Linked DNA regions of Homo sapiens: region 1 is linked to region 2. The links come from fine-mapping of genetic effects on gene expression. A gene starts in region 2. The other region holds a variant in brackets. All regions are shown on one strand. Distances are from middle to middle. Region 1 overlaps ZNF541 (zinc finger protein 541). Region 2 holds the start of NAPA (NSF attachment protein alpha).

Region 1 (5,368 bases), 30 kb before region 2:
GTGGGGGAAAGAAAGACACATGTTTTTCAAACCAGGAGACCTGCAAGTGGGAGATGAAAGTACTTAGCATTCTTATGGGGCTCCTCCCTTTCACAAGGGGCTTTGACTAATCCATCTTTCATCTTATCCTCTCACCCACACCTACCCCAGGAAAAGGAGCCAATTTGCTCATGTCACAAGTTGGTAATAGCTGGGGGTAGAACTTAGGTCTCCTGATTCCCTCTCTGTTGCTTCCCTCAGACAGAGGCTGAGGGTGAGCCTTTGGGGAAAGACTTTATGATTTAGTCCACATCGACTAGGACTGTCCAGAGCAGGGCTGTTGGGGGCCCAGAGGGTGATGTACTCCTCTGCTTATATTTATAATGTGTTAATGCAGAGGTAGGTGTGATGCAATACATATTTACATGCATTTCTGTTTGCAGAAACTATAGGCACATTTGGCTGTTTGGCTCTATAATGTTTCTATGGATTGGGCCTCTGTAAATTGGCTTCTTTGCTGTGGGGGGTTCCAGGTAGCATCTTCTTAGGGGTCTCCTACGGTAAGGCACAGATTCCTTTGTTAAAGGAAGGATCGTCCCCAAGTTAGCATCTCCTCCAGTCTATTCTGCAGAATTCTGGTTCTCAGGAATGCTAATAGGGGCTTTTTGAAAACAAAACCAAAAACAGTTCTCTGGGCAAATAAGTTTGAGAGACACTGAAAGTTAAACAGGTCTCTCTCTGTGTGGCTTTTACATTTGCTACTGTGTGCCGGCTACAGTGGCTCACGCCTGTAATCTCAGCACTTTGGGAGGCCAAGGCAGGCAGATCACTTGAGGGTCAGGAGTTCGAGACCAGCTTGGCCAACAAGGCAAAACCCCGTCTCTACTAAAAATACAAAAATTAGCTGGGCGTGGTGGCACGCACCTGTAGTCCCAGCTACTTGGAGGCTGAGGCACAAGAATCGCTTGAACCTGGGGGGCAGAGTTGCAGTGAGCCGAGATCGTGCCATTGCACTCCAGCCTGGGTGACAGAGCAAGACTCCGTCTCAAAAACAAAAAATTAATTAATTAAATTTGCTACTGTGCATCGTGAACCTCCAAGGAGTGAATGGTGTTTTTTCAAAACTTATTTATTAGCTGTGCCAAAGTCCTTGAGGAGCAACTCTGGAGGTCTTTGTGTTCCTTGGGAACCCACTCTGGGGAAATCTGATCTGGCCTCAGTGGATTTTTTTTTTTGTATTTTTTAAAATTTTATTTATTTGTTTGTTTGTTTATTGAGATAGAGTCTCACTCTGTCACCCAGGCTGGAGTGCAGTGGTGTGATCTCGGCTCACTGCAATGCACTTCATCTCCTGGGTACAAGTGATTCTCTTGCCTCAGCTTCCCCAGTAGCTGGGATTACTGGCATGTGCCACTACACCCAGCTAAATTTTTTGTATTTTTAGTAGAGACGGGTTTTACCATGTTGGCCAGGCTGGTCTCAAACTCCTGACCTCAAGTGATCCACTCACCTCGGCCTCCCAAAGTGCTGGGATTACAGGCATGAGCCACTGTGCCCCGCTGGTTTTTTTTTTTTTTTTTACTTTTCTGTAAGGGGTTTGCTTAAAGGTGAGGGGAGAGGAACTCCCCTGCCAGATGGCTTTGACCGAAGCAGGGTTTGCTGGGTGGTCTTTCCTCGTGGGGGCTGAGTACAATTTCTGAATTGTGGTGCAACTGTACCACAGACTTTTGGGGGCCACCAGGGTCCTACAGCAGAAAGCCCGGTCCCAGGTGCCCCGGTGACGCCCCTGCTTGTGTCTGGCTCCAGGACCGGGCACATGCTCACCCACCAGAAGACAAAGCCCTTCGTGTGCATCGAGCAGGGCTGCAGCAAGAGCTACTGCGACTACCGCTCTCTGCGCCGGCACTACGAGGTCCATCACGGCCTGTGCATCCTGAAGGAAGCCCCCCCGGAGGAAGAGGCCTGCGGGGACTCCCCCCACGCCCACGAGTCGGCCGGCCAGCCGCCCCCCAGCAGCCTGCGGTCCCTGGTGCCCCCAGAGGCCAGGTCCCCCGGCTCCCTCCTGCCCCACCGGGACCTCCTGCGCCGCATCGTGAGTAGCATCGTCCACCAGAAGACCCCTTCTCCTGGCCCAGCCCCGGCGGGGGCTTCAGACAGCGAAGGGAGGAACACTGCCTGTCCCTGCCCCGCCTCATCGGGGTCCTCGTCCTGCACCCCAGCCGGCCCCCACGCGGCCCCAGCAGCGCTGGACACCGAGCTTCCCGAGGAGCCTTGCCTCCCACAGAAAGAGCCGGCCACTGACGTGTTCACAGCCCCTAATTCCAGGGCCGCCGAGAACGGCGCCCCCGACCCGCCAGAGCCGGAGCCAGATACCGCGCTGCTCCAGGCCCGGTCCACCGCGGAGTGCTGGCCCGAAGGCGGCTCCGTGCCTGCCTGCCTGCCTCTCTTCCGAGGCCAGACGGTCCCTGCCAGTTCCCAGCCATCGAGCCACAGCTTCCAGTGGCTCCGGAACCTGCCGGGCTGTCCCA[A/G]AAGCAAAGGCAACAACGTGTTTGTTGTCCACAAGCCCTCGGCCGTGCCCTCGCGGGAGGGCTCCGAGTCTGGCCCGGGACCCAGCAGCGGAAGCCCCTCGGAGGAGTCCCCGCCCGGCCCCGGCGGTGGCCTGGAGGATGCTCTGCCCTTCCCTGCCGCGCTCCTCAGGGTCCCCGCGGAGGCCCCGAGCGACCCCAGGTCGGCCAGCGGGGAAGATGACCCCTGCGCCCCCAAGAAGGTCAAGGTCGACTGCGACTCCTTCCTGTGCCAGAACCCCGGGGAGCCCGGCCTCCAGGAGGCCCAGAAGGCAGGCGGGCTCCCTGCGGATGCCTCGCCGCTCTTCCGCCAGCTCTTCCTCAAGTCGCAGGAACCTCTTGTGAGCCACGAGCAGATGCAGGTGTTCCAGATGATCACCAAGTCCCAGCGGATCTTCTCCCATGCCCAGGTGGCAGCAGTCTCCTCCCAGCTCCCTGCGCCCGAGGGCAAACCAGCCGCCCTGAGGCCGCTGCAGGGGCCGTGGCCGCAGCAGCCCCCACCACTGGCTCCTGCTGTGGACTCTCTCCACGCCGGCCCTGGAAACCCCGAGGCAGAGGGCTCCCCAGCCCGCAGGAGAAAAACCACACCCGGGGTTCCCAGAGAGGCCTCCCCCGGCAGCACGAGACGAGACGCAAAGGGGGGACTGAAAGTGGCCGCGGTTCCAACGCCCCTTGCAGCACCGTCTCTGGACCCTTCCAGGAATCCAGACATCTCTTCTCTGGCCAAGCAGCTGCGATCCTCTAAAGGGACCTTGGACCTGGAGGACATCTTCCCCTCCACAGGCCAACGGCAGACCCAGTTAGGTGGGGAGGAGCCACCAGGAGCCTCGCTGCCAGGGAAGCAGGCCCCAGCCGAGAATGGCGCGGCTTCAAGGATCACAAAAGGTGAAAAGGGCCCAGCCTGCTCCCGGGGTGGAGGCTACCGGCTCTTGGGCAACCCCAGGGCCCCGCGATTCTCCGGCTTCCGGAAAGAGAAGGCGAAGATGGATATGTGCTGTGCGGCTTCTCCGAGCCAGGTAGCCATGGCCTCCTTCTCATCGGCCGGGCCCCCGGCAGATCCCTCCAAGTCCAAGCTGACAATATTCAGCAGAATCCAGGTACCAGCTCTCTCTCACGTGGCCTGACCAGAGTGGAGTGAGTTTCCTTTGCATTTGTTAGTTGTCCAGGCATTTTATTTCATTTCAGAGAGTCCCCAGATGCAATTTTACAGAGGAAGGAATTAAGGTTCCGAAAGATTGTGGTTTTCCCCACTAAAAAAAAAAAGACCAGAATGAGGCCAGGTGAGGTGGCTTATGCCTGTAATCCCAGCCCTTTGGGATGGGAGGCTGAAGTGGGGAGACTGCTTGAGCTCAGGAGTTCGAGATCAGCCTAGGCAACATGGCGAAACCCAGTCTCTACCAAAATTTTAAAAAAGTAGCTGGGCGTGGTGGCACACGCCTGTGGTCCCAGCTACTCGAGAGGCTGAGGTGGGGGAGAATCGCTTGAACCTGGAAGATGGAGGTTTCAGTGAGCTGAGATTGTGTCTCTGCACTCCAGCCTGGGCAACAGAGCAAGACCCTGTCTTAAAAAAAAAAAAAAAGATCAACATGAGGATATCCCAGAGTTGTTCAAAACACTGTTATCTCACAAAGCCTTTTTTGCTTTTTTTTTTCTCTTGTTTCCCTTTGGATTTGCCTTTTTAGAATCTTCAGAGGATATGAAGGTAGATGCTCTCTTTCCTTTAAAGATTCCTGCTTGAAATGGCCATGTGTTTTCTGATTGTGAGTCTTGGTTTCCACAAGCACAAGTGGGCACCTGCATCGTGCCCCACACTTAAGCACATTGATAATTATTCACTGGTTCCTCCAGATGTTGTGTTTGGAGGGCCTGGTCCAAAGAGCTCATCCAGGTCTCCTGACTCCATGTCCAACCTGGGCAACATGGCGAAACCCTGTCTCTACCAAAATTTAAAAAAAATTAGTTGGGCATGGTGGTGCACGCCTGTGGTCCCAGCTACTCAGGAGGATGAGTAGCTTCCCATCATACCACAGCTACCTCATTTTTGTTTTGTTAACATCTTTATTATTCAGGTGCCAAATAATGCACCATTTTATTTTTTATATATTTTTTAGAGATGGAGGGGGTCTCGCTATGTTGCCCAGCCTGGTCTTGAACCCCTGGGCTCAAGCAATCCTCTCATCTCGGCCTCCTAAAGTGTTGGGATTACAGGCATGAGCCACCATGCCCAGCCAAATCCACCACTTTATTTTATTTTTTAAATTTATTTTATTTATTTATTTATGATGGAGTCTCACTCTGTCGCCCAGGCTGGAATGCAGTGGTGCTATCTCAGCTCATTGCAACCTCCGCCTCCTGGGTTCAAGCAGTTCTCTGCCTCAGCCTCCGAGTAGCTGGGATTACAGGCATGCGCCACCACATCTGGCTAATTTTTGTGTGTTTAGTAGAGACGAGGTTTCACCATCTTGGCCAGGCTGGTCTTGAACTCCTGACCTCGTGATCCACCCGCCTCAGCCTCCCAAAGTGCTGAGATTGCAGGTGTGAGCCACTGTGCCTGGCCAAATTTATTTTTGAGACGGAGTCTCTCACTCTGTTGCCCAGGCTGGAGTATAGTGGTGCAATCTTGGCTTACTGCAGCCTCTGCCTCCCAAGTTCAAGCAATTCTCCTGCCTGGGCCTTCCAAGTAGCTGGGATTACAGGCACACATCACCATGCCCAGCTAATTTTTGTATTTTTAGTAGAGCCAGGGTGTCACTGTGTTGGCCAGGCTGGTCTTTCCTGACCTCAGGTGATGTGCTTGCCTCGGCCTCCCAAAGTGCTGAGATTAC
Region 2 (5,368 bases):
AAAAACTGCAATGACAGCAAAAAAAAATTCCCACATACCCCAGTTTCCCCTATGATTAACATCTTATATTAGAATGGTACATTTATTACCACGTATGAACCAGTATGGCACAATATTATTAACTAAACTTCATAGTTTATTTAGATTTCCTTAGTGTTTTTGTTTGTTTTGAGATGGAGTCTCACTCTGTCACCCAGGCTGTAGCACAGTGGCACAATCTCGGCTCACCACAACCTCCACCTCCTGGGTTCAAGCAATTCTGCTTCAGCTTCCTGAGTAGCTGGGACTATAGGCGCCCTCCACCAGGCCCAGCTAATGTTTGTATTTTTAGTAGAGACAGTGTTTCTCCATGTTAGCCAGGCTGGTCTGGAACTCCTGACCTCAGGTGATCCACCCGCCTCAGCCTCTCAAAGTGGTGGGATTACAGGTATGAGCCACCGCACCCGGCCAATTTCCTTGGTTTTTTAACTCAATGCCCTTCTGTTCCAGGATCCCACCGAAGGTAAGACATTACATTTAGCAGTCACGTCTCCTTGGCTGTGATGGTTTCTCAGGCTTTCCTTGTTTTGATGACTTGACAGTGTTATTTGTTTGAGACGGAGTCTCCCTCTTGTCCCCCAGGCTGGAGTGCAGTGAGGCAATCTCCGCTCACTGCAACCTCCACCTCCAGGGTACAAGTGATCCTCCTGCCTCAGCCTCCCAAGTAGCTGTGATTACAGGCATGCACCACCTCACCGGGCTAAGTTTTTTGTATTTTCAGTAGCGACGGGGTTTCCCCATGTTGGACAGGCTGGTCTCAAACTCCTGGCCTCAAGTGATCCTCCTGCCTTGGCCTCCCAAAGTACCAGGACTACAGATGTGACACACTGCACCCACCAACAGTGTTGAGGAGTACTGGGCAAGTATTTTGGAGGATGTGGCTCAACTGGAATTTGTCTAGTGTTTTTTTCATGATTAGATTGAAAGATCCCAGAAGTAAAGAGCCATTTTAATCACATGACTTATCAATGTTGAGGTTAACCTCAATCACCTAGATGTCAATGTCAGGTTTCTCCACTGTAAATTTAGGCTTTTTCTCCCCTTTCTTGTACCCTCTTCTTTGAAAGGAAGTCACTATGCACAGTCCATACTTACAGAATGGGGAGGTATCCTTCACCTTCTTGAGAGCAGAGTATCTACGCAGATTATTTGGAATTCTTCTGCACAAACTATTTGTCTATTCTCCCCCCTTTATTTATTTGTTCTATATTCATCTATATGACCATAGGCTCATGGATACTTTATGTTTGGGATTATAATCCAATACTACTTTATTTTGATGCTCAAATTGTTCCAGCTTTGGCCATTGGGAGTTCTTTCAGTTGGCTCCTTTGGCATACCCCCTAATTTTGTGTGTGAGCACACGTGTGGAATACTTCCTTCCTTTCTGGCACTACAAAGTTATACTGAGGTGAGCTATGATTGTGCTGCTGCACTCCAGCCTGGGCGACAGACCGAGACCCTGTCTCCAAAACCAACAACCCAAAGAGTGAGACCCTGTCTCAGAAACCAGCAACTCAATTTTCTGGGACAGCAGGAGGTGTGTTTGAGCCTAAACTTTTTTTTTTAGAGACAGAGTCTTGCTATGTTGCCCAAGGCGGGACTTGAACTAGACTCAAACTCCTGGGCCCAAGCGATCCTCTCGCCTCCCGAGTAGCTGGGATTATAGGCACGAGACACCGCGCCCATCTTCGAATCTGAATTTTTTTTTAACACGCTCTCTTCAGCTATTTTTTTTTTTTTTCTGAGACTAAGTCTCACTCTGTCGCCCAGGCTGGAGTGCAGTGGCACGATCTCGGCCCGTTGCAACCTCCACCTCCCCGGTTCAAGCGATTCTCCTCTCTCAGCCTCCTCAGTAGCTGGGATTACAGGAGTGTGCCACCACACCCGGTTAATATTTGTATTTTAGTAGAGCGGGGTTTCGCCATGTTGGCCGGGCTGGTCTCAAACTCATGACCTCAAGTGATCCGCCCGCCTCGGCCTCCCAAAGTGCTGGGATTACAGGCGTAAGCCACCGTGCCCGGCCCTCTTCAGCTATTTTTTATGAAACCAGAGTTAGAGAACCTCTTAAGTTTTTGTTTGCAGTCTCTCTTCACCGGTCTCCCCAAAGCAGTTCTAGTACTGGCCGACAGAGGGAGCAAGAAAAAGCAGAACGGTTTCCTTTTCCCACAAACGCCTTTCCAAGTGAAGAAACCGGCGAGACCAGCCGCGGGGGCGGGACTAAGTTCTGCGCAGAACTGTCAAACCCGGGCGTGGGCCCCGAGCTGTCACGTGAGTGTCTGCGGTCAGCTGACTGTGCCAGAGTTCCGCGGGGAGGGCGAGTGGGGGACCCCCCGCCCCAGCGCGAGCCGAGGGCTCCTGCTGATTGGTGGAGGAGGATCCAGCAGCAACACCGTGGGGCGGGGCCTCGGCGGGGGGTACTGCCATTGCCTTCCACAGGGTCACGTGGGAGGTGAGGTACAGAGCGCTGGGGAGAGAGTGGAGCGCCGTTCGCCGGTATGTGCGCATGCGTTGAGGTCTCTTGACGCCGATTGGGGGGTCACGAGTCACGGGCGGCGTGCGGCGGCTGGTGGGGGCGTGTCCGGCGGAGCGGGCGCGGCGTTACGAGGCCGCTGGTTGGCCAGCGCTAGTCACGTGGTTCCTGGCCGCAAGCGACGCGCGCCGGTGCGACGTCAACGCAGCCGGGCGAGTTTTACCGATCTGTGTTCCGCGGCCCGGCCGCGGCTGAGTCTTCCCAGGGTCAGGGTCAGGCGCTTTGCTGAGTCCCTTTGTGGCCGCCATGGACAATTCCGGGAAGGAAGCGGAGGCGATGGCGCTGTTGGCCGAGGCGGAGCGCAAAGTGAAGAACTCGCAGTCCTTCTTCTCTGGCCTCTTTGGGTGAGAACCGGGCTGAGGGGTCGGCCGGGACCTAGGCTGAGAGGACGAAGGAGTCACGCTCGGAGGTGGCGGGTTAGGGCACGCAGAGCTCGGGCCGAGGGGACGGAGAGGAACCTGCAATAAGGTGACATGGCCTGAGGCGGCAGAGGGGACGCAGGCTGAGGGCCAAGAGCCTGGGCCGGGGCAACACGGTTTGAGGAGAGACGGTCTGACATGGCGGAAGGGATTTGGGCTGAGGACACACGGACCGAGGCGACACTATCTTGAGGCGAGGAAGGGGACCCAGGCCGAAGACAGGCCAGCGGGCGGGGGAGAACCTGGACCGAGGGAGTACGTCCTGAAGCCTTGGAGGGGACCGGCCTGGGGGGACGGAGGGAGTCCGGGAGAGAAGCCAGGTCCAGAGGCTTTTCGGAGCTCTAGGGGAGTCTGTTTGAAGGCTCTCAGGCGGCAGTGATGGGGCCTGGGGCTGAGGACGCCTGCCCGAGGGACTGACCTTTTCAACCCCTGGAGCAGTGGATTTGCGTGGGCCCTGGGCGGTGAGGGTGAAGGCTGAAGGGGGCTGACACCAGGCAGAGGGGCTCAGGGCTAGATGATCCTAGGAGCGGTGAGCCGCGTCTGAAGTGTGGGGGGTGCATGGGGTGAGTACGGCCCTGGTTAGCAGTGACTAGTTTAAGGACAGCTGAACGGAGGAACCCGGGATGATGGAGTCAAGACTGTGGAGGTCTCAGCACTTTGGGAGGCCGAGGTGGGCAGATTATCTGAGGCGGGGAGTTCGAGACCAGCCTGGACAACATGGTGAAACCCCGTCTCTACTAAAAATACAAAAGTTATCTGGGCCTGGTGGCGGGTACCTGTAATCCCAGCTACTCGGGAGGCTGGGGCAGGAGAATCACTTGAACCCGGAGGTAGAGGTTGCAGTGAGCCGAGATCGAGCCACTGCACTACAGCCTGGGGGACAGAGCGAGACTCTGTCTCAAAAAAAAAAAAAAAAAAAAAGAAAGAAAGAAAGAAAAAAGCCTGAGGAGGCCTGGGTTGAGGCTGGAGACTCCTGGGTGGGGGAATGCGTGGTGGTGGCTTGGCCAAGGAGATGGAGGGATAACAGGGAGAGACAGGGGGACTGAGAGAACCAAAACGGGGGATCAAATTCCTGCTGTGTGATCCTCGAGTAATAGGGATGACAGAGACATGCTGAGAAGAGGGATGGGAAAAGGCCTGGGAGACAGAACTAACACATATGACGTGGCATAAAACTCACGTTAGCTCCTAAAAGCTGACACGACCATCCTGTGATAAATTGTAGTGGCTTAGAAGTGCCAAGAGCCCAAGTAGCTCTGCCACTTACTTCATGACTTTGGGTAAATTGTTTAGTCTCCCTGCTAAAGGAGATCACAAATCAAACCTACCTCCCATTTGCTATGAGTGTTAGAATTGAGCCTGGCGTGGAGTTACATCTCTGAGAGTGTTAGCTGTTGTTAATGTGACTTCCAGAAGGAAACAGGTTCGGAGCGTGCAGAGAGCTGATGGGGGTTCAAGGTGGACGCCCGAGCGGAGAGGTCTGGGAGGGGTCAGGAGAGGGAGAGACTGAGAAACATGAGTGTGCTAAGAGGAGCTGAAAGGGAACAGAAAAGGGATCCACGAAGACTTAGTAGGGTTGAGAGGAGCATGAGGCTCTGGGCAGAGGAAGGAGAAGGGAGTTTGGCAGGGGGCGGTGGTGTGGGAGGTGGTGGGATCTGTGCTGATGGGACGACCCGAAAGGGTCAAGGGGAGGTTGTGGAAACTGAGAGGAGACCTGGGAAAGGACTAGTGGGCTTGTAGAGAGAACAGTGTGTGGTGGCCACTCAGAAGCAGAGCCTGGGGACGGTGGTGGGACTGGGAACATCTGCAGAAGGCTGGAGAAGGGGGTTTGGGAGGAGGGCCTGGGGATGGGAAGAGACTGTGGTAGGAGCCTGGCAGAGGCTGGTAAGACACGAAGGAGAGGGATCTTTACAAGAGAGGAAGGAACAGGAAAAGGGCTCTAGGCCACGCCCCTTGTTTGAGGTTGGATAATGTTTAGCAAAATAACTTGAAGAACATGATGGCGAATTGCCTGGTGTGGAGAAACATCCGGGGCTGATGGACTGGATTGATTAGGTGAAAAATGTTTTATTTTAGAGGCTGCGAGGAGAGAGAGGGTGTGTGTGTGTTTCTTTTTCTTCACAAGGGGAGAAGTTCAAGTGCTGTGTTTGGGGGTGGGGCCACGAGCTGGGTTTTTGGTGATAGTTTTCCTGGGTGGCTCTGGGTGTCTGGTCCCTTTGGCCCAGGGATTAGTGGGCTGTTGGACTGTGTGCTTGGAGGGAGCAGCTAAGTCAGCCCCAAGGCATTTGCTACCTGATTGGGAAGGCAGGATGAACAGCAAACACCAATAAAGTGGAATTACCTACTGTAAGGAGGGGCTCGATGATGTCATTCCTGT

The links. PIP is the estimated chance that this variant, and not a neighbour inherited with it, causes the effect.
Region 1: its variant is the best candidate, but not a certain one, in a credible set for the expression of NAPA in whole blood (INTERVAL, PIP 0.52).

What each region holds. Positions count from the first base shown.
Region 1 is chr19:47,542,398-47,547,765 of GRCh38, reverse strand. ZNF541 (zinc finger protein 541) reads left to right here. Exons shown (of 17, transcript NM_001277075.3): 5 at 1,786-3,640. Among named protein-coding and RNA genes, the nearest start is that of ZNF541, 28 kb to the left of the region's middle. The variant A/G (reference allele first, on the strand shown) is at 2,508.
Region 2 is chr19:47,512,391-47,517,758 of GRCh38, reverse strand. NAPA (NSF attachment protein alpha) reads left to right here and starts at 2,696. Exons shown (of 11, transcript NM_003827.4): 1 at 2,696-2,916. The coding sequence starts at 2,819. RefSeq lists an enhancer at 2,048-2,317 and a silencer at 2,408-2,747.